Homo sapiens: one gene and its partners. The protein of the gene in region 2 purifies or fractionates together with the protein of the main gene of each other region. This does not show direct contact. Each region holds a gene or a part of one and is shown on either strand. Other genes may lie near its edges.

What was found.
Region 1: the proteins of PLVAP (region 2) and LMAN2L purify together in Homo sapiens (affinity purification with mass spectrometry; 3 studies listed by BioGRID and IntAct, with this or other methods). This does not show direct contact.
Region 3: the proteins of PLVAP (region 2) and OSBPL11 purify together in Homo sapiens (affinity purification with mass spectrometry; 3 studies listed by BioGRID and IntAct, with this or other methods). This does not show direct contact.

Annotation. Positions count from the first base shown.
Region 1 is NC_000002.12:96,737,044-96,744,984, reverse strand, and holds the start of LMAN2L (VIP36-like protein isoform 2 precursor), read left to right. Parts: upstream 1-4,920; 5' UTR 4,921-4,944; coding exon 4,945-5,131; exon of another isoform or gene 5,132-5,145; intron 5,146-6,917; coding exon 6,918-7,036; intron 7,037-7,767; exon of another isoform or gene 7,768-7,848; intron 7,849-7,941. UniProt on the Homo sapiens protein: May be involved in the regulation of export from the endoplasmic reticulum of a subset of glycoproteins. May function as a regulator of ERGIC-53.
Region 2 is NC_000019.10:17,367,322-17,374,345, forward strand, and holds part of PLVAP (plasmalemma vesicle-associated protein), read right to left. Parts: intron 1-7,024. UniProt on the Homo sapiens protein: Endothelial cell-specific membrane protein involved in the formation of the diaphragms that bridge endothelial fenestrae. It is also required for the formation of stomata of caveolae and transendothelial channels.
Region 3 is NC_000003.12:125,550,477-125,557,500, reverse strand, and holds part of OSBPL11 (oxysterol-binding protein-related protein 11), read left to right. Parts: intron 1-4,821; coding exon 4,822-5,320; intron 5,321-7,024. UniProt on the Homo sapiens protein: Plays a role in regulating ADIPOQ and FABP4 levels in differentiating adipocytes and is also involved in regulation of adipocyte triglyceride storage. Weakly binds 25-hydroxycholesterol. Interacts with OSBPL9 to function as lipid transfer proteins.

The sequences.
Region 1 (7,941 bases), on a different chromosome or scaffold from region 2:
TGTCTTCCTTCCATCTCACTTTGTAGACTCCGTTGTCCAGGCTGGAGTATAGTGGCGCGATCTTGGCTCACTGCAACCTCTGCCTCCCAGGCTCAAGAGATTCTCATATCTCAGCCTCCCAAGTAGCTGGGATTACACACACGTGCCATGATGCCCGGCAAATTTTTTATGTATTTTTAGTAGAGACAGGGTTTCACCATGTTTGTTGGCCAGGCTGGTCTTAAACTCCTGACATATGATCTGTCCGCCTCAGCATCCCAAAGCGCTGGGATTACAGGCATGAGCCACTGCGCCCAGCTGAGAGATGGCTGTCTTAACGGACTACCCTGCTCTGGAATATCCCAAGATAAGACCCACTTCCACCCTTCCTCAGTGACTCAGATAAGACCCTCTCCATCCTTCCTCTCACGAAAGATCCCTTGTTTACCTGGATTACCCCAGGTCTCCTTCCTTTTGTTTTGCTTTGAGATGGAGTTTCACTCTTGTTGCTCAGGCTGGAGTGCAATGGCGTGATCTCGGCTCACTGCAACCTCCGCCTCCTGGGTTCAAGCAATTCTCCTGCCTCAGCCTTCCAAGTAGCTGGGATTACAGGCACCATGCCTGGCTAATTTTTGTATTTTTAGTAGAGACAGGGTTTCACCATGTTGGCCAGGCTGGTCTCGAACTCCTGACCTCAAATGATTCCGCCCTCCACCCCCACCTCGGCCTCCCAAAGTGCTGGGATTGCAGGTGTGAGCCACCGAGCCCCGCCTGTCCTTCCTTTCCTTTTTTTTTTCTTTTGAGATGGAGTCTCACTCTGTTGCTCAGGCTCGAGTGCAGTGGCATGATCTTGGCTCACTGCAACCTCTTCCTCCTGGGTTCAAGCGATTCTCCTGCCTCAACCTCCCGAGTGGCTGGGACTACAGGTGTGCACTACCACGCTTGGCTAATTTTTGTATTTCTAGTTGAGATGGGGTTTCACTATATTGGCCAGGCTGGTCTCGAACTCCTGACCTCATGATCCACCCGCCTCAGCCTCCCAAAGTACTGGGATTACAGGTATGAGCCACCGGGCCTGGCTCTTCCTTTTCTTTGATACATTCCTCATTAATAAGCATTCTTCCTATTGCAACAGTCTGAACAAAATGATTTGATTTATAGTCCAGTGCATCTCACCTTTCACACCCTTCTCCTTTATTCCCCTTTTCCTCATCACACAGAATTTTACAATGAGATTTCTGCTTGTGTCAATCTATCAGAAATTCAGCTGACAGGGTGCATGACACTGCGAATGAATTTAATGCCTTTGAACTGAACACACATGGTCCTGACTTAATGATGGTTTGACTTAGGATTTTTAGACTTTAGGATGGGTTTAGTTTTTCTGTAGGTAACCCCATTGTAAGTTGAGGACCATCTGTACTTAAAAATTATACGCTGTATTTTATGTATTTTTTTTCTTTTTTTTTTTTGAGACAGAGTTTCACTCTTGTTGCCTAGGCTGGAGTGCAGTGGCGCGATCTTGGCTCACCGCAACCTCCACTTCCCAGGTTCAAGCGATTCTCCTGCCTCAGCCTCCCAACTAGCTGGGATTACAGGCATGCGCCACCACACCCGGCTAATTTTGTATTTTTAGTAGAGACGGGGTTTCTTCATGTTGGTCAGGCTGGTCTCGAACTCCCGACCTCAGATGAGCCACCCACCTCGGCCTCCCAAAGTGCTGGGATTACAGGTGTGAGCCACCGCGCCCGGCCTTTATGTGCATTTTACTACAATTAAAAATTCATCTTGCAGAGAAATGCAATGGAAATAATTTATTCAAAACAATTAGAACCCCTACTATGTGCTGGGTGATAGGTTGGGGTTGGGGAAATGGGTGGGGCCTGAGTTAGGAAATGAGTAAGACCTGCTTCCTGTGGTCCTGGAGCTCCCAGCCTTGCTGCGGAGACAAACCCATAATCTGTTAATTGAGCTCCATAATTCCAGGTGACACACATTACAGTACACATGCGTAGCGCCTGATTTCAGTCAGGATGCAAAGGGCTTTGAATGCTACACTAAGGACTTTGGATTTTGGTAATTGGGAGTTATGAATGGTTTTAAAGCCAGTGTATGACACGAACAGATTCATTGCAATTCCTAAAGTCTTAGCACCAGACATTTGACATTGTAGGGTGTCAAAGACTGATGGCAGTGACAGGCTGGGCACCATGGCTCACACCTGTAATCTCAGCACTTTGAGAGATGAGGTGGGAGGATCGCTTAAGGCCAGAAGTTCAAAACCAGCCTGGGCAACATAGAGACCCCCATCTTTAGAAAAAATTTTAAAAATTAGCTGAGGCTCACCCAGCAGTTTGAGACTGTAGTGAGCTATGATCACAGTACTGCACCCCAGCCTGATGGATTGAGACCCCATTTCTTCTTTTTTTTGTTTTTTTGAGACGGATCTGCTGCTCAGGCTGGAGTATGGTGGTGGGATCTTCTTGACTCACTGCAACCTCTACCTCCTGGGTTCAAGTGATTCTCCTGCCTCAGCCTTCCAAGTATCTGGGATTACAGGCACCTGCCACCACGCCCATTTAATTTTTGTATATATATGTATATATATATTTTTCGAGACGAAGTCTCACTGTGTTGCCCAGGCTGGAGTGCTGTGGTGCGGTCTCGGCTCACTGCAACCTCCGCCTTCTGGGTTCAAGTGATTCTCCTGCCTCAGCCTCCTGAGTAGCTGGGACTACAGGCGTGTGCCACCACGGCTGGCTAATTTTTTGTATTTTTAGTAGAGATGGGGTTTCACCATGTTGGCCAGGATGGTCTTGAACTCCTGACCTCAGGTGATCCGCCTGCCTCCCAAAGTGCTGGGATTACAGGCCTGAGCCACCGTGCCCAGCCAAGACCCCATCTCTTTAAAAAAAATAGCTGTGACAGCTTTAATTTTAAAAAGTTGATCCCCTGTAAAGTAGGCTCATAATTATGTTTATCTTATTAAATATATTCATGCTCAGGAAAGCAAGAGAGTGTTAACTTTGGTTAAGTCTATTGGGAAGACATAAACACAGATCTGTCAATTGCTCTATATGAGATGTGCATGGAACACTTTGAGAGCTCAGACAGGAGAATCTACCCTGCCTGAGAGGTTTGAGAAGGACCTCCAGAAGGAAGTGGACTGCAGAAAAAAAAAAGAGGGAAGGGAAGCTGGAGCATAAAGATGGAGGAAAAGAGTCATGGGCAATAAGGCCAGGGCCAGATGGCAGGGGGCTTTGTGTGCCAAATTGAGGGGCTTGAATCTCCTCCCCACAGGTGATGGTGAGCCATCAAAGGCCCGGTTAATAAGAATGATGATGATGAAATAGCGCTTATGGCTTGGTGCGGTGGCTTACACCTCTAATCCCAGCACTTTGGGAGGCTGAGGAGAGAGGATCACTGAAGTCTAGAAGTATGAGACAAATCTGGGCAACTTAGTGAGACCTCCCCCACAACCCCATAGCTACAAAAAATAAAAATTAGCAAGGTGAGGTGGCACACACCTGTAGTCCCAGCTACTTGAGAGGCTGAAGTGGGAAGATCCCTTGAGTCCAGGAGGTTGAGGCTGTGGTCATGCCACTGCACTCCAGCCTGGGTGACAGAGAGAGACCCTGTCTCAAAAACAAAAACAAAAACAAAAACAAAAAAAAAAAGAAAAGAAAAAAGAAAGAAATAGTGCTTACTACACGCAAGGCACTGTTCTAAGAGGTTTACCAATATTGACTCATTTAACCCTGACACTTACCATGGTTAGATAGTTTGGATCACTTTAGTGGCTACGTGGAGACCAGTCTGGACACATGTTGTGGTGCCGGATAAAGACGAAGGGATGTGCCTGTAGTCCCAGTAACTCAGGAGGCTAAGGTGGCAGGATCACTTCAGCCAGGGAGGGAGAGGCTGGAGCTGAGATTGTGCCACTGCACTCCAGCCTGGGCAACAGAGCAAGACCTTGTCTCTCTTTTTTTTTTTTTTTTTGAGATGGAGTTTTGCTCTATGTGGCCCAGGCTGGAGTGCAATGGCTTGGTCTCGGCTCACTGCAACCTCTGCCTCCCAGGTTCAAGCGATTCTCCTGCCTCAGCCTCCCAGTAGCTGGGATTACAGGCACGTGCCACCACGCCTGGCTAATTTTTTTTTTTATTTTTAATAGAGACGGGGTTTCTCCACCTTGGTCAGGCTGGTCTCGAACTCCCAACCTCAGGTGATCCGCCTGCCTCGGCCTCCCAAAGTGCTGGGATTACAGGCGTGAGCCACCGCGCCTGGCCAAGACCTCGTCTCAAACCAAAAAGAAAAAAAAGAGGAAGGGAGGAAAGGAGGTGATGGCTTTTAGAATTAATTAATTTGTGTGCTTTCAGTTCTTTTATATCTGTAGGTTGCTTGATGGCCCAGACTATCACGGCAAAGGAGTCATTTGCATTTGAAGAGAATGTGTCTTCCGCAGTTGTTAGGTGGAGTTTCTATAAATATCATCAGGTCAAGTTAGTTGGTAGTGCTGTTCAAGTCTTTTATAAATTGATAGTTTTCCAGCTATTTTACGGATTTGTCTATTTCTCCTTTCACTGCTATATCTTCCAAATTGATTCAGAGAGCTGCAGTCAGGAGCGTACTATTGCAGAGAGGATAGAATGTTTGGGACCAGAAGAAACGTTTTATCTCTTTAAATTTACTCTCGTACGCAGAAAACAAAATACAAATAAACTACGTATCCCAGCAAGCCTAGTGGAACTCAGGGCAAATGCAAATAAGGGGGGGGGCTGGGCATTCGGCTACGCCCCTTTTCTGGGTTGGCAAGGCAACTGATACAGAAGCCAGCCAATCGGTGATATAGTCACCTGCAGGGGCGGGGGCTTGACGAAAGCCAATAGGACGCAGGGCAGATGGCTCTTCGGGCCAATGGGTTGGGCGACGGGGCGGGCTTTTGATGAAGGGTCGTTGGTGGGAAAGATGGCGGCGACTCTGGGACCCCTTGGGTCGTGGCAGCAGTGGCGGCGATGTTTGTCGGCTCGGGATGGGTCCAGGATGTTACTCCTTCTTCTTTTGTTGGGGTCTGGGCAGGGGCCACAGCAAGTCGGGGCGGGTCAAACGTTCGAGTACTTGAAACGGGAGCACTCGCTGTCGAAGCCCTACCAGGGTGAGGCGCCCAGGGTGAGGTGGTCGTGCAGTGGGGCGGGCTTCGGGACTTGATTTCAGGGGTAGAGGCGGGGGCGGCGAAGGGCTTCGTGGCCCGGAGGAAACTGCTGGCGGTGGTGGGGCCCACGGAGACTCCCTCCGCGTTTGGGAGCCACAGGTCTGAAAGGCAGGAGTTAGGTGTGCCTGCCAAGCTCTGGAAGTTTCCAGTAGGTAAAGGCAGGGCTGTCGGGTGCCACTAGTACTAGGCCTGGAGTTAGACAGGAGGAGTTTGGGAAGGGGAGAGAATTGAGAATGGTGAGGAGTGATTGAGGGCTACTAGCAATGAGCCAGTCTCCAGATGGACCTGTGGATGTGCTAGAAATAAAGCAGGAGGAAGAACTGGGGTAGAACTTGAACGAAATGAGAAGATGATAAATTTATGTTGCTGGGTAGAACCACCTTCTCTTCTCCAGCCTAGGGGCCCTGTTGGTGAAAGAGGTTAGGGTTCACAGAACTCTAAGCACAGCTTATCAGCCAGAAAATTAATGCAGTTAGCCACAAAACGATGACAAACCAGTGCAGATGGCTTAACTAACACAAGTCTTTCCCCACTAAGGCGTAGGTAGTGGGACAGAAAACAATTCAAAGTGCAAGAGTATACTCTACTACTAAGGGTAATCATTTATTCACTTACATGCCTGGAGTGCCTCTGTGCTGTCTCTTTGCTAATGCTTATGGGTTTGCAGACACAAAGTTTTCATTCTTAAAGAAGTTTATAGGTGAGGGTACAGGGAGTAGCTTCACACTTTAAGGATTGTTTAAAGAAAGAATGTGACGGCTGGGGCGGTGGCTCACGCCTGTAATCTCCGCACTTTGGGAGGCCGAGGTGGGCGGATCACGAGGTCAGGAGATTGAGACCATCCTAGCTAACACGGTGAAACCCCATCTCTGCTGAAAATACAAAAAAATTAGCCAGGTGTGGTGGCGGGCGCCTGTAGTCCCAGCTACTCAGGAGGCTGAGGCAGGAGAATGGCGTGAACCCGGGAGGCAGAGCTTACAGTGAGCCGAGGTCATGCCACTGCACTTCAGCCTGGGCAACAGAGCGAGACTCCATCTCAAAGAAAAAAAAAAAAGGAAGAATGTGACTAAGCCCCGGAGGCCTGAGGGTCAAACTCTTTTTATTTATATTTATATATTTTTAGAGACAAGGTCTTGTTCCGTTGCCTAGGCTGGAGTGCAGTGGCACAATCATGGCTCATGCAGTTTCAATCTCCTGGGCTCAAGCGATGCTCCCAACTCAGCCTCCTGAGTAGCTAGGACTATGGACAAGGACTACCACACCTGGCTAATTTTTTTTTTGGTAAAGACAGGGTCTTTCTATGTTGCCCAGGCTGGTCTCAAATTGCTGACCTCAAGATGCCCTCCCTCCACATCATCTCAAAGTGTGGGGATTACATGGGTGAGCCACTGCACCTGGCCTGTCAAACTCTTTTTGATATAACTCAGGAAAATTTTTTTCTTTTACGATGCTGAAGTTTACTCACATATAAAACGGGAAGAATGGATGTGAGCTATGGTTACTGTAACATGCATAAAGTGAGAGTTCTGATGTGCTTTGGGGTCCTTACCTGATAAAGGCCTTGTGAAAGCTGTAGAGATGGTAAGATTCATGACTGAGAGAAGATAGGAGATTGAGTGACATTAAAGGGGGAAAAAGATGATGGCTCAGCTTTCAGAGGCTCTGTGGTGGCTGCTTTCTGAATGGATTGGTGTTGAAAAGTATGAACTGATCTACTTCCTTCCTGTAGGTGTGGGCACAGGCAGTTCCTCACTGTGGAATCTGATGGGCAATGCCATGGTGATGACCCAGTATATCCGCCTTACCCCAGATATGCAAAGTAAACAGGGTGCCTTGTGGAACCGGGTGGTAAGAATCTTTCTCCCTCCTGTGTTGGTGACCCAGAAAGGCCTAAAAAGTTCAGCAGTGGCATACTGATTTAATTTTACTGTCTATCCCCCTGGTATTCTATCTTCTGTGGATATCAAGGATCTTTATTTTTGAGATTATTCTGACCTTGATAATAAATAAATCAGGTATTTAGGAAAATGCTCTCTATTTAATTATAGCAAATAATTCATTTTTTTTTCCTGAAATGTCGTTAATTCCTGATTGGCCCAATAGTACTACTTCTTAGGGTTTAATAATAACTTAACTCCTGCTTAACCACTTTGTAAGAAGATTATAAGAAGACCAGAGTGCAGTGGCACAATCATAGCTCACTGCAGCCTCAAACTCCTGGGCTTAAGGGCTCCTCCTGCCTCAGCCTCCTGAGTAGCTGAGACTACAGGCATGTGCCACTGCACCTGGCTAATTTTTAAAACGTTTTTTGTAGAGATGGGGTCTTGCTATGTTGCCCAGGCTGGTCTCAAACTCTTGGTCTCAAACAATCCTCCTGCCTTGGCCTCCCAAAGGTCAGGGATTATAGGTGTGAGCCACCGGTCCTGGTTGAGAGTACTCTTAAATTGATCCCAAACCTTATCCCAGCATCCCCATCTTGTTATTTCAATTTGAAGAGTCTGATATAAAATTTTATTTTCATGTGAAAGCCACTCTGAGCTGTTGGTCATTTTATTTGTCCTTCTCTGGACCTTTTCTAGCTGCATTGTCTTCCTTGAGGTATGGCGACAAGAAGTGAATGCAGTATTCCTGGTGTGGCTGCACTGTGATTTTGTACAAGTGTAAGATGATGCTTTCTTTTCTGTTTCCAGGGCTTTCTAAATCTTTTACGACCAGTTTACTTTTGGGCATGACTCTGGCATCCTTTGATACTT
Region 2 (7,024 bases):
CTCCTGCCTCAGCCTCCCCAGTAGCTGGGACTACAGGCCTGTGCCACCACGCCTGACTGATTTTTAAATTTTTTTTTTTTTCTTGAGACAGAGTTTCGCTCTTGTTGCCCAGGCTGAAGTGCAATGGCGCGATCTCGGCTCACTGCAACCTCCGCCTCCCGAGTTCAAGCGATTCTCCTGCCTCAGCCTCCTGAGTAGCTGGGATTACAGGCATGCGCCACAACACCCGGCTAATCTTTGCATTTTTAGTAGAGATGGGGTTTCTCCATGTTGGTCAGGCTGGTCTTGAACTCCCAACCTCAGGTGATCCGCCTATCTCGGCCTCCCAAAGTGCTGGGATTACAGGCGTGAGCCACCATGCCCAGCCTTAAATTTGTTTTTGTAGAGATGGGGTTTCACTATGTTTACCAGGGTGGTGACGATCTCCCCCATCAGCCTCCCAAATTGCTGGGATTACAGGTGTGCACCACCATGCCTGGCTATGGTCAACTGATTTGGACAAGGATGCTGCTATGAGCTCAACTGTATCCCCAGTACCTGAGAATGTGACTGTATTTAGAAGTAGGGTTTTTTTGTTTTTGTTTTTTGTTTTTTTACACAGAGTCTCGCTCTATCACCCAGGCTGGAGTACAATGGCTCGATCTCAGCTCACTGCAACCTCTGCCTCCCGGGTTCAAGTGATTCTCCTGCCTCAGCCTCCCGAGTAGTTGGGATTACAGGGGCCCACCACCCTGCCCGGCTAATTTTTTTTTTTTTTTTTTTTTTTTGAGACGGAGTTTCGCTCTTTTTGCCCAGGCTGGAGTGCAATGGCATGATCTCGGCTCACTGCAACCTCCACCTCCCGAGTTCAAGTGATTCTCCTGCCTCAGTCTCCCTAGTAGCTGGGATTACAGGCACGCACCACCATGCTTGGCTAATATTGTATTTTTTAGTAGAGACAGGGTTTCTCCATGTTGGCCAGGCTGGTCTCAAACTCCCATCCTCAGGTGATCCGCCCACCTCGGCCTCCTAAAGTGCTAGGATTACAGGTGTGAGCCACCGCACTCGGCCGAACTAATTTTTGTATTTTTAGTAGAGACAGGGTTTCACCATGTTGGCCAGGCTGGTTTCAAACTCCTGACCTCAGGTGATTCGCCCCCCTCGGCCTCCCAAAGTGCTGGGATTATAGTCGTGAGCCACCTCTCCTGGCAGAAGTAGGGTCTTTAGAGAGGTAATTAAGTTAAGGTGAGGTCCTTAGGGTGGGTCCTAATCCAACATGACTGATGTCCTTATAAAGAGAAGAGATTTGGACACAGAGACACGGACAGAAGGAAGACCAAGAGCAGACACAGGAAGAAGATGCCACCTGCAAGCCAAGTAGAAAGACCTGGAACAGGCCGGCTATGGTGGCTCACGCCTGTAATCCCAGCACTCTGGGAGGCCAAGGCGGGTGGATCACGAGGTCAAGAGTTCAAGAGCAACCTGGCCAAGATGGTGAAATCCCATCTCTACTAAAAATACAAAAAAATTAGCAGGGCATGTTGGTGGGCACCCGTAATCTCAGCTACTGGGGAGGCTGAGGCAGAGAATTGCTTGAACTCGGGGAGGCGGAGGTTGCAGTGAGCCGAGATCGCGTCTCTGCACTCCAGTCCAGCCTGGGTGACAGAGCGAGACTCCGTCTCAAAAAAACAAACAAACAAACAAAAACCTGGAACAGATCCTTCCCTCACAGCCTCAGAAGGAACCAACCCCGCTAACACTTTGATCTTGGTACCACCCAGTCTGTAATACCTTGTCATGGAAGCCCTAGCAAATTAATACAAATGCTAACACCATCTCATGAGGCAAACAACAGTCTTTAAAAAAAACCTTTTTTTGTTTTTTTTTTTGTTGTTGTTTTTGAGACAGGGTTTTTTGCTCTGTCACCCAGCCTGGAGTGCAGTGGCACGATCTCGGCTCACTGTAACCTCCGTCTCCCGGGTTCAAGTGATTCCCCAGCCTCAGCCTCTCGAGTAGCTGGGATTACAGGTGTGCACCACCATACCTGGCTAATTTTTGTATTTTTAGTAGAGACAGGGTTTCGCCATGTTGGCCAGGCTGGTCTCGAACTCCTAACCTCAAGTGATCTGCCCACCACCAGCCTGGCCAACATGGCGAAACCCCATCTTTGCTAAAAATACAAAAATTAGCCAGGCATGGAAGCGCATGCTTGTAGTCCCAGCTATTTGGGAGTCTGAGCCAGGAGACTCGCTTGAATCCGGGAGGCGGAGGTTGCAGTGAGATGAGATTGTGCCACCACACTCCAACCTGGGGAACAGAGTGAGACTCTATGTCCAAAAAAAAAAAAAAGAAAAATTAAAATTAAATTAAATAAGATATGCAAATGGCCAAAGAGCATATCAAAAGACATTCAAAATCGGCTGGGCGCGGTGGCTCACACCTATAATCCCAGCACTTTGGGAGGCCAAGACAGGTGGATCACCTGAGGTTGGGCATTCGAGACCAGCCTGGCCAACATGGTGAAACCCCATCTCTACTAAAAATACAAAAAAATTAGCCAGGCCTGGTGGCAGGTGCCTGTAATCCCAGCTACTTGGGAGGCTGAGGCAGAAGAATTGCTTGAACCCGGGAGATGGAGGTTGCAGTGAGCCACGATCACACCATTGCACTCCAGCCTGGGTGACAGAGCGAGAGTCTGTCTAAAAAAAAAAAAAAAAAAAAAAAAAGAAAGATATTCAAAATCATTAGCCATTACGGAAATGCAAATCAGGACCACAGTGAGATACCACTACACACCCACGAGGGTGGCTATTTTAAAAACCCATAAACCCCCAAAATGAACAGTAACAGGTGTTGATGAGGATGTGGGGAAATCAGAATTCTCAGACAGTACTAGTGAGAATGTACAATGTTGCAACGGCTTTGGGAAAGTCTGGCAGTTCCTCAAAATGTTAAACATAGTTACCACGTGACCCAGAAACTCTACTTCTCAGCATATACCCAGAGCAATGGAAACACATCCTCACATCAACTTGCCAGGAATGTCCACAGCCGCTCGATTCACAGTAGCCAAAGGTGGAAAGAACCCAAATGCCTGTCAGCAGATGAATTAACGCACAAAATGTGTTCCTTCCATACATAGAACATGATTCAGCCATAAAAAGGAAGGAAGCACTGATCCATGTTGCAGTGTGTGTGAACCCCAAAAACATGATGCCTAAGTGAGAGAAGCCGGACACAAAAGGCCACAGAATGTGAGATTCCACTGACATGAAATGCCCAGAACAGGCAAATCCATAGAGACAGGAAGCAGGTTGGTGGCTGTCAGGGATTGGGGGAGGGGAATGGGAAGTGACTGCTGATGGGGACGTGGGTTTTCTTTTGGGAAGGTGAAAATGTTCTAAAATAATGTTCTAAAATGGATCGTGGTGATCAATGTACAACTCTGTGAATTTACAAAAAAATCATCAAATTGGCTGGGCGCGGTGGCTCACGCCTGTAATCTCAGCACTTTGGGAGGCCGAGGCGGGCGGATCACGAGGTCAGGAGATCTAGACCATCCTGGCTAACACGGTGAAACCCCATCTCTACTAAAAATACAAAAAATTAGCCAGGCGTGGTGGCGGGCGCCTGTAGTCCCAGCTACTCGGGAGGCTGAGGCAGGAGAATGGCGTGAACCTGGGAGGCAGAGCTTGCAATGAGCTGAGATCGCGCCACTGCACTCCAGCCTGGGCGACAGAGCGAGACTCCATCTCAAAACAAACAAACAAACAAACAAAAACATCAAATTGTACACTTTAAATAGGTGGATTGTAAAATACATGAATTATATATCAATAAAGCTGTTTTTAAAAATTATTTATTATTATTATTATTATTGAGATGGAGTCTCGCTCTGTGGCCCAGGCTAGAGTGCAGCGGTGTGATCTCAGCTCACTGCAACCTCTACTTCCTGGGTTCAAGTGATTCTCATGCCTCAGCCTCCCAAGTAGCTGGGAATACAGGGGTGCACCACCATGACCAGCTAATTTTTGTATTTTAGTAGAGACGGGGTTGCACCATGTTAGCCAGGTGGTTTCGAACTCCTGACCTCAAGTGATCCACTGGCCTCAGTCTCCTGCCTTGACTTCCCAAAGTGCTGGAATTACAGACGTGAGCTGCCACGCCCGGCCAGCTATTTTTATTTTAATTTAATTTTATTTTTTTTGAGACATGGTCTCACTCTGCCACCCAGGCTGGAGTGTGGTGGTGTGATCACAGCTCACTGCAGCCTCAGCCTCCCCAGGCTCGGGCAATCCTCCCACCTCAGTCTCTCAAGTAGCTGGGATTACAGGCACGTGCCACCACTCCTGGCTAATTTTTTATAGAGATGGGGTCTCACCATGTTGCCCAGGCTGGTCTTAAACTGCTGAGCTCAAGCAATCCACCCACCTTGGCCTCCCAAAATGTTGGGATTACAGGTGTGAACCACCACGCCTGGCCAGCAAAGCTGTTTTTAAAGAAAGTGTTCACAATTTAACAAACTAAAGCCATGCCTTTCAAACTTTGGAAGAGAACCCTCTGCAGAAATATAATAAGACATGAAGAATCAGGAGAGTTTGTCTTTCTGCAACTCTCTGTCCTTCATCCTTTTGCAGTTGGCCCTGGGTGAATGTCCTGGGGGGACATGGGGAATGCCTTCTGTTCTCAAAAGCCTTAGTCATTAGGAGGCTGAGGTGGGAACACTGCTTGAGGCTGGGAGTTCGAGACCAGCCTCGGCAATGTAGTGACACCATGTCTCTAAAAAAAAAAAAAAAAAAAAAGGATGTGATTTTTAAGTTTCTTTTTTAATTTTTAGTTTATTTTTTATAGAGAAGAGGTGTCTTGGGAGGCTGAGGCAGGTGGATCACCTGAGATCAGGAGTTCCAGACCAGCCTGGCCAACATGGGGAAACCCCATCTCTACTAAAAATACAAAAAATTAGCTGGGTTTGGTGGCGGGTGCCTGTAATCCCAGCTACTCGGGAGGCTGAGGTAGGAGAATCACTTGAACCCGGGAGGCAGAGGTTGTAGGGAGCTGAGATTGCGCCACTGCAATCCAGCCTGGGCGACAGAGTGAAACTCTGTGTCAAAAATAGTAATAATAATAATAAAATAATTAAATAATGTTTTTATTTATTTATTTATTTATTTTTTGAGACGGAGTCTCGCTCTGTCGCCCAGGCTGGAGTGCAGTGGCGCAATCTCGGCTCACTGCAAGCTCCGCCTCCCGGGTTCATGCCATTCTCCTGCCTCAGCCTCCCGAGTAGCTGGGACTACAGGCGCCCACCACCACACCTGGCTAATTTTTCGTATTTTTAGTAGAGACGGGGTTTCACTGTGTTAGCCAGCATGGTCTCGATCTCCTGACCTAGTGATCCACCCACCTCGGCCTCCCGAAGTGTTGGGATTATAGGTGTGAGCCACTGCACCCGGCCAATAATTTTTTTTTAAATGAAAAGACAGGCCAGGTGCAGTGGCTCACACCTGTAATCCCAGCACTGGGAGGCCAAGGCGGGCGGATCACGAGGTCAGGAAATTGAGGCCATCCTGGTTAACATAGTGAAACCCCGTCTCTACTAAAAATACAAAAAAAAAATTAGCAGGGCATGTTGGCGGGCACCTGTAGACCCAGCTACTCGGGAGGCTAAGGCAGGGGAATTGCTTGAACCCAGGAGGCAGAGGTTGCAGTGAGTGGATACCGCGCCATTGCACCCCAGCCTTGGCGACAGAGCTAGACTCTGTCTCAAAAAAAAAAAAAAAAAAAAAAAAAAAAGAAAGAAAAGACACCAGTTAGCCAGGTTCAGGTCTGAGAGGGGAGGCAGGGCTCTAATCTGAGGATCTAAGGGGCAGGCAGGACCCTATTGGGAGGGTCTGAGGGAGGGGCACAGTTATGCCCTGGGGACTGAGGGGTGTTCCACCCCATCTTGGGGGGCTGAGGTGAGACCTACCATACTCTGGGCATCTGGGGAGACGGTGCTTTGCCCCGGGGTTTTGGCGGATAGAGACAGGGCCCTACCCCTGGGGCTCTGGGCGAGGGGTTGAGGTGGAGGTAGGGCCCCGCCATTAGGGGTCTGAGGTGAGGAGACTGAGTTCTGCCTTGAGCAGGACTGAGGGGGCTGAGCTTACCTTCCTGCCCAGTGCGGACGGCTGGGTGGTCTGAGGTCCTATGGGAGGTCTGTCTTTGCCACTGCCTGGGCCCTGGCCAGCCAGGTCACCTCCTTGGAAGACCCTGAAGCTGCCTCTTCAGCCTTCCCTCACCCCACCCTCCCATCTCTCACCCACCTCACCCTTAAGGAGAGAGCCCCACACCTGCTCCCCACAATGTCTCAGGGCAGGCGGGACACCCCCTGGATGAAGTTGTGTCTGAGAACACGGGGATAATTGTCTAGTGAGTTTGACACAAGCCGGGGTGCGAGAGTGGCGCGATGGTCTCCAGGAGACCCCAGATTTGCAGCTGTGACTTTGCCCAGAGAGCCCGCCTGTTTCTGCCACCTCAAGAAAGTCACCTCCCCTCTCATGCCTTCACTTTCCTGCCTGCAAAGGGTTTAAAACTTCTGCTGCCCAGGCGCAATGGCTCACTCCTGTAATCTCAACACTTTGGGAGGCCAAGGCAGGTGGATCACTTGAAGGCAGGAGTTTGAGACCAGCCTGGCCAACATGGTGAAACCCCATCTCTACTAAAAATACAAAACTTAGCCGGGCATGGTGGGGCGCACCTGCAATCCCAGCTACTCGGGAGGCTGAGGCAACAGAATCGCTTGAGCCTGGGAGGCAGTGGTTGCAGTGAGCCGAGACCTTCCACTGCACTCCAGCCTTGGCAACAGAGGGAGACCCTGTCTCAAACAAAACAAAATAAAACAAAACAGCCGGGAACGGTGGCTCACGCCTGTAATCCCAGCACTTTGGGAGGCCGAGGCGGGTGGATCACAGGGTCAGGAGATCCAGACCATCCTGGCTAACACAGTGAAACCCGGTCTCTACTAAAAATAGAAAAATTAGCCAGGCATGACGGCGGGCGCCTGTAG
Region 3 (7,024 bases), on a different chromosome or scaffold from region 2:
TTGAGGCAGGAGAACCGCTTGAACCCAGGAGGCAGAGGTTACAGTAAGCTGAGGTTGCGCCACTGCACTCTAGCCTGGGCGACAGAGCTAGATTCTGTCTCAAAAAAAATAAACAAATAAATAAAAATAAAGAGCCTGGTGACTAAACTGCAGTCACAGCTACCTCTTATCTAACAATAACACTTAATTAACAAATATTTACTGGGCCCCTGTTATATTCCAGACACTGTGCTAGGTCTTGGGACAGGAACAAATAAGATAACCATGGTCCTAGCCTTCATGTTGTGAATAAGTAATATGCATTTTCCTACTGTTCATTTTGTTTCTTTTTAAATAATATTATGAAATTATATAAACACAAAATTTTAGAAAACTAAAGAAAATCTATCATTTTACTACCCTAACATAACAGAGCTCTCACTTTTATCTTTCTTCACATTGTCATAGTTTATATGGAATTTTGTTTTACTTCCTTTTTTCAGTTAATTTTTGTGTGTATGAAATGTGTTAAACACACAGAAGACTGAATGGTATACATATAAACATTCAAAGAAAAAAGATAAAATGAATACCCATGTATCTACCTCTGACATTAAGTTGTAGAACACTGCCTGAACTTGGAATCTCTGAGTTCCCCTCTAATTTATAGTCCTCTACTTTTTCCTCCATAAAACAATTTACTTGACTTGTGTGTTAATTATCCCTCTACTTTTTGCTATAGTTTTACTGCTTTTTTGTACTCCATAATGATGTTTAGGAAAAAATGAATAGCTAACATAAGCTTAGCATAAGGAAAGGACTGTGTTGCCATTTGTAGAAAGCAGCTCCCAGAAAAAGACAAGTTAAACATTTGAGTCTCTGGCTTTAGCTTCTTATAAGTTATTGAGAAAGTTTAGAAGAGCCCTTTCTTGTGAAATTATAAGGCAAAGTTGTGAGTCCTGTAAAATATACATCCCAGAGCATTTGGTGTGAGTCAGCTACAGGAGGAATGTGGGCTGGGGGAGTGAGCTGCTCAGTATTTTCAGTTTCAAAGCAAACTGTGACCTACCTCCAACTCTGAGGAATAGATTGAAGTCAGAAGGCTTCTTTCGGGGAAATGAGCATCTTCAGCCAATCCAGACAGCAGAACATGGAGAGGAGACTAAGAACTTCACCAGCAGATAGTCAACACAAGCCAAATACAGATACACTTGGGATCAGTTTCACTAGGCTATTTTATCCTGAGGTTTGAAAAGATGATACAATGGCAGCATGAAGCATGTGGATGACAGTCTTCAGTATGTCTGTCTCTTGAGTCACATCACTCTAATCTGGACCAGTATTTCCTTTAGCATTCTCTTTGGCTAATCCGTTTACTGTATCCGTTTCTTCTTTCTTGGTTGCCTCTCATTTTGTTGGAATATATCCTCCATTAATTTCTCAGAAAGATTTGTAAGAAGCGAATGTGAAAATGTGTGTCTGAAATGTCTGTGTTGCCCTCGTGTTTCATTGCTGGTTTAGATAGAATTTGTTACTTGTGGCCAGGTGCAGTGGCTCACGCCTGTAATCCCAGCACTTTGGGAGGCCAAAGCAGGCAGATCACTTGAGGCCAGGAGTTTGAGACCAGCCTGGCCAACATGGCAAAATCCCCTCTACTAAAAGTACAAAAATTAGCCAGGCATGGTGGCACATGCCTGTAATCCCAGCCATTCAGGAGGCTGAGGCACAGGAATCACTTGAACCTGGGAGGTGGAGGTTGCAGTGAGCTGAGATGACGCCACTGCACTCCAGCCTGGGTGACAGAGCGAGACTCCATCTCAAAAAAAAAAAGATAATATCTCCGTGCTGCAGGGTTCTAATGAAAAGACTGAAGTCATTCTGATTCCTGATCTTTTGTTTGTGACTTGTTTTGTATGTTCTTCTCTCCAAAATTGTTTAGAATCTTCTCTTTATCATGTCTTGGTATTGTGACATTGATGTAGGTTTCTTTTATCCATTGTATCTGGGCACTTGGTGGGCCTTTTCAGTGTGACAACTCATGTTTTTGAGTTCTCTGAAATTTTCTTGAATTATTTCTTTGATGATTGTATTAGGGTTCCTAGAAGGACAGAAATAAGAGGATAGATGTATATATAAAGGGGAGTTTATTAAGGAATATTGACTCATACAGTCACAAGGTAAGGTCTCATAATAGGCCATCTGCAAGCTGAGGAGCAGGGAATCCAGTCCGAGTCCCCAAACCTCAAAAGTAGGGAAGCCAGCAGTGCAGCTTTCAGTCTGTGGTTGAAGGTCCAAGAGTCCAAAAGCGAAGAACTTGGAGTCCGATGTTCAAGGGCAGGAAGCATCCAGCAGGGGAGAAAGATGTAGGCCAGAAGACTCAGCAAGTCTAGTCCTTCCATATTCCCCTGCTAGCTTTTATCCTAGCAGCTGATTAGATGGTGCCCACACAGATTGAGGGTAGGTCTGCCTCTCCCAATCCACTGACTCAAATGTTAATCCCCTTTGGCAACACCCTCAGACGCACCCAAGAACAGTACTTTGTATCCTTCAATCCAATCAAGTTGACACTCAATATTAACCATCACAATGATTTTTCTTTCTTCTATTTTGTTTGTTTGTTTGTTTGTTTTCTCTGAAATCCTTATTATATGGCCATTGAACTTCCTGGTCTGGTCTTTTATTGTTCTCTCATACTTTTCTTTTTCTCTCTTTGTCTGTCTTCTGTGTTATGGGAGATTTCCTCGCCTTTTATCTTTTAACTCTTCTTTTGACTTTTAATTATTGTCATGTTTTTAAATTTTCTGATTTTTTTAAAAAGCATTCTTGTATGTATATAATATCTTCTTAATTCTCTGAAGATATTATTTTTTATTTTTGTTTTTTCCCCTCCTTTGAGGTTTCTGTTTCCTCCAAATCTGTTTCTTTATTTTGTTCTTTATATTCCTAGTTAGAGGTTTTCTCAGAAATCAGATCTTCTGCTCACAATTAAGTTTAGGGAAACTAAAATCTGATTTTAAGCTTTAACACGTAGGTGGCGCCTATGTTTTTCATTGTCCCATAATCTGGATGGGCCATTTGTTGGGAGACTTGGTGTCAGTATCATTAGGTTTTTCTTCTAGGTTTAGTCAAATTTCCCAGAAGAAAAATTTTTTCATCTCATACTTGGTGACTCCAAAAGGAGTTAAAAAGGAGAAGAAGGCTGCATGAGAGAGGGTGTTAATAGCTAACGTTTAGTTTATATGGAGTTATTAAATGCCCTTGTTATGTATCACTTGGTATCCACTCTCTTAGAATTCCTTGCTATTCTCCAGTCTAGAGAATAGACCACCTTGTTTATCCAGAGGCTAAACCTCTAGACTTTGAGGTCCAAGAGGGTAGTTACTAACAGTGTGGAGTTGGGGGTTTGAGTTAGGCATCTAATTGCTTTCCATACAGATTTTACTCAGTTATTTTTATTTTATCATTTCTGTGAATCCCCAGATCCAGAGGTACCTAGTGCGATCAGCTCCTGAGCCTTTTTAGGAATCTGTGCATATTGTAACCTACTGCCTAAGTTTCAGCTTTCTAGTTAGGAACTCTCAAAATTTTGTTGTGTTTTGTCTACTTTCCTGGTATCTCTGGGTTTGTCTTTATATGAAGTTAATTTAATTTCAGTGGAATTTCGACAGAAAGTGAAATTAAGATGCATGTGTTCAATTCACCAGCTGAACCTGCAACATCCACTGTCTTTTGTATTATTTGTATCATCTTCAAAACCGTCTTTTTAAATGACTATAATAGTCAATTAAATGAAAGTTCCCTACTTCAGTTAGCTAGAACCGTAGTTTAAAATGCAGGTTGTTCTAATTATTTTTTCACATTGCTTTTCCTTCATTCAATTATTTATTTCCTAAGGCTAGATTCTTGGAATGTAAGTACTAGGCTAAATGGGTAAGAACATCTTAGGGCTCTTGAAAAATATTGCCAGATTTTGCTTTCTCAGACGTTTAAACCATTTTGCAGTGCCTCTCCCAACTCTGCTTTAAGTAAAATATTTATCTTTCTTACACTTACCTGGTTTTAAGTATAAAAATTTCTCTTATTGGAAATAGTTCTCTTGTGCTTAAGATTAAATATATGTTGCAGTTTTTGCTTCGGTCTGTGATCTCTTTAGTCTGTTCTCAGGGAATGACATTTATTGACTTTTCTCATGTCTTGGTCATTCATCTACAATTTAATTTTAACATAGGAAAGGAGCAAAGGCATGGCTAACATTTACTTTGAGTTTTAACACCATTTCCCTGGTGATACTTTTATCCAGTCTAGAAGTTTGAGGATTTTTTTGAAGTTTCTTCTGACTCTCTTGAATTTATGTTTAGTCTTGGGCAGATTTGCCTGTCCTTTTAAGAATGCTTTTTTGTTGTTGTTGTTAAGACAGGGTCTCACTCTGTTGCTCAGGTACAAGTGCAGTGGCGCAGTCATGGCTCATTGTAGCCTTGACCTCCCAGGTGATCCTCCCACCTCAGCCTCCTGAGCAGCTGGGACCACAGGCACAAGGCACCATGCCCAGCTAATTTTTGTAACTTTTGTAGAGACACGGTTCCACTATGTTGCCTCAGCTGGTTTCGAACTCCTGTGCTGAAACAATCCTCCCAACTTGGCCTCCCAAAGTGCTGTGATTATAGGCATGAGCCACTGCGCCTGGCCAAGAATGCTTATTTTTTAATGTGACTGAATACTTTTTCTTTGTGACTTTGTTTTTAATACCCATCTAGAATGAAATGTTTTCAGAGAGAGAATAGTTGTCTACAGATATGCTACACATGGATTAAATTTCCCCTCTTTCATTGATTGTTGTTTTAGGTGGTGCTTCCTACATTTATCCTAGAGAAGCGTTCCTTGCTGGAAATGTATGCAGACTTTATGTCTCATCCAGACCTATTTATAGCCATCACTAATGGAGCCACAGCTGAGGACAGAATGATTCGCTTTGTTGAGTACTACCTTACCTCATTTCATGAAGGCCGTAAGGGAGCCATTGCTAAAAAACCATACAATCCTATCATTGGAGAAACATTTCACTGTTCCTGGAAGATGCCAAAAAGCGAGGTAGCATCCAGTGTTTTTAGCAGTTCTTCCACCCAGGGAGTCACAAATCATGCTCCTTTATCGGGGGAGTCTTTGACCCAGGTGGGATCAGACTGTTACACAGTCAGATTTGTTGCTGAGCAGGTTTCTCATCATCCTCCAGTCTCAGGATTTTATGCAGAATGTACAGAGAGGAAGATGTGTGTAAATGCGCATGTCTGGACTAAGAGCAAGTTCTTAGGCATGTCAATAGGCGTGACAATGGTTGGAGAAGGTAAGTAGAAAAATTATTTTATATATATATATATATATACACACACACATATATATATGTATTTTTTTTTCCAAGCAGGAATGAAAGTTTACTTTAAAAGGCTTTAGAACAGGAAAGAAAGGAAAGTTCGCTTGGGAGAAACCCAAGCAGGCACGTGAAGGTCAAGTGCCTGTTTTATAATTTTTAATATCAAACTACAATCTTAAATTTAGGAACCCCAGATAAATATTAACTCTAAGTTTAAAATATTATGTTACTTTTTCGCTCCAATTTCTAGAGTGTTCCAGAATGCTTCTTGTGGGGATGGGAGGAGTATATCTATGAACTAATGTAAATTCTCTTTTTAAATTATTTTTTTCTGATTTTAAATATTTCTTTTCGTTTGTTTTCTTTTCTTTTTTTTGAGATGGAGTCTCGCTCTGTCATCCAGGCTGGAGTGCAATGGTGCTATCTCCGCTCACTGCAAACTCCGCCTCCCAGGTTCAAGCGATTCTCCTGCCTCAGACTCACGAGTAGCTGGGATTATGGCGCCTGCCACCATGCCACCACACCCAGCTAATTTTTATATTGTTAGTAGAGATGGGGGGTTTCACCATGTTGGTTAGGCTGGTCTCAAACTCCTGACCTCTGATGATCCACCCACCTCGGCCTCCCAAAGTGATGGGATTACAGGCATGAGCCACCGTGCCTGGCGATTTTAAATATTTCTTATCAAATATTTGGAAAACTAGAAAAGTACAAAGCAGAAAATAAAAGCTTCTGTAATGCCTGCATCCATATATATATAAATTTAATATTTTATACTTTTTCTGTGTGTGTATGTTCATACTTTTAGCCTTATAAAATTAGAATTAATAATATATATAGTTTTGAGTCCTGCTTTTTAAATTAAATATATTCATTTTATCATGTCATTGATAAAACATATTTTAATGACTGCATAATATTCTATGAAATAGATTTTCCATCCTTTTTTTTAATTTAATTTAATTTAATTTTTTTTTTTTTTTTTTTTTAGAAACAGGGTCTTGCTCTGTTGCCCAGGCTGAAGTGCAGTGGCATGGTCATAACTAACTGCAGCCTTGACCTACTCGGCTCAAGCCATCCTCCTGCCTCAGCCTCCCAAGTAGCTAGGACTACAGGCATGCACCACCATGCTAGGCTAATTTTTTTAATTTTTATTTTTAGAGACAGGGTCTCAATATGTTGCCCAGGCTGGTCATGAACTCCTGGGCTCAAGTGATCCTTTGGCCTCCACCTCCAGGCATTAGCCTGTAATCTCAGCACTTTAGGAGATGGAGGCCAGAGGTGCTATTCATAGAATATTTAGGTGCTATTCATAGAATATTTAAAAATATATGCTGATAAAAGTTAATTCTACTTCATCAGAAGATTATGAAAAAATTATTTTTGGAAATGCAGAGTTTTTTGACCAAGAATATGAAACAAAAACAAAAATCTCCACAGAAATTATTGAAGAGTTAATGAAAATATAATGATAGGAAAAAAATACCACTTTTATGTTAAAGGAAAACTCTTATGCAAAGAACACTATGCTCTGAATGTCATCTTACAGTGTAAGCATGGCATCATTAAGCCAATCTAATATTTTGAGATTGTGTTATAGTCGTTATGAAGAAAGTATCCTCTTTTTCAGTTTTCCTCATTTTTAAGTTCTGTTGTAATATGTCTTACCAATTTCCA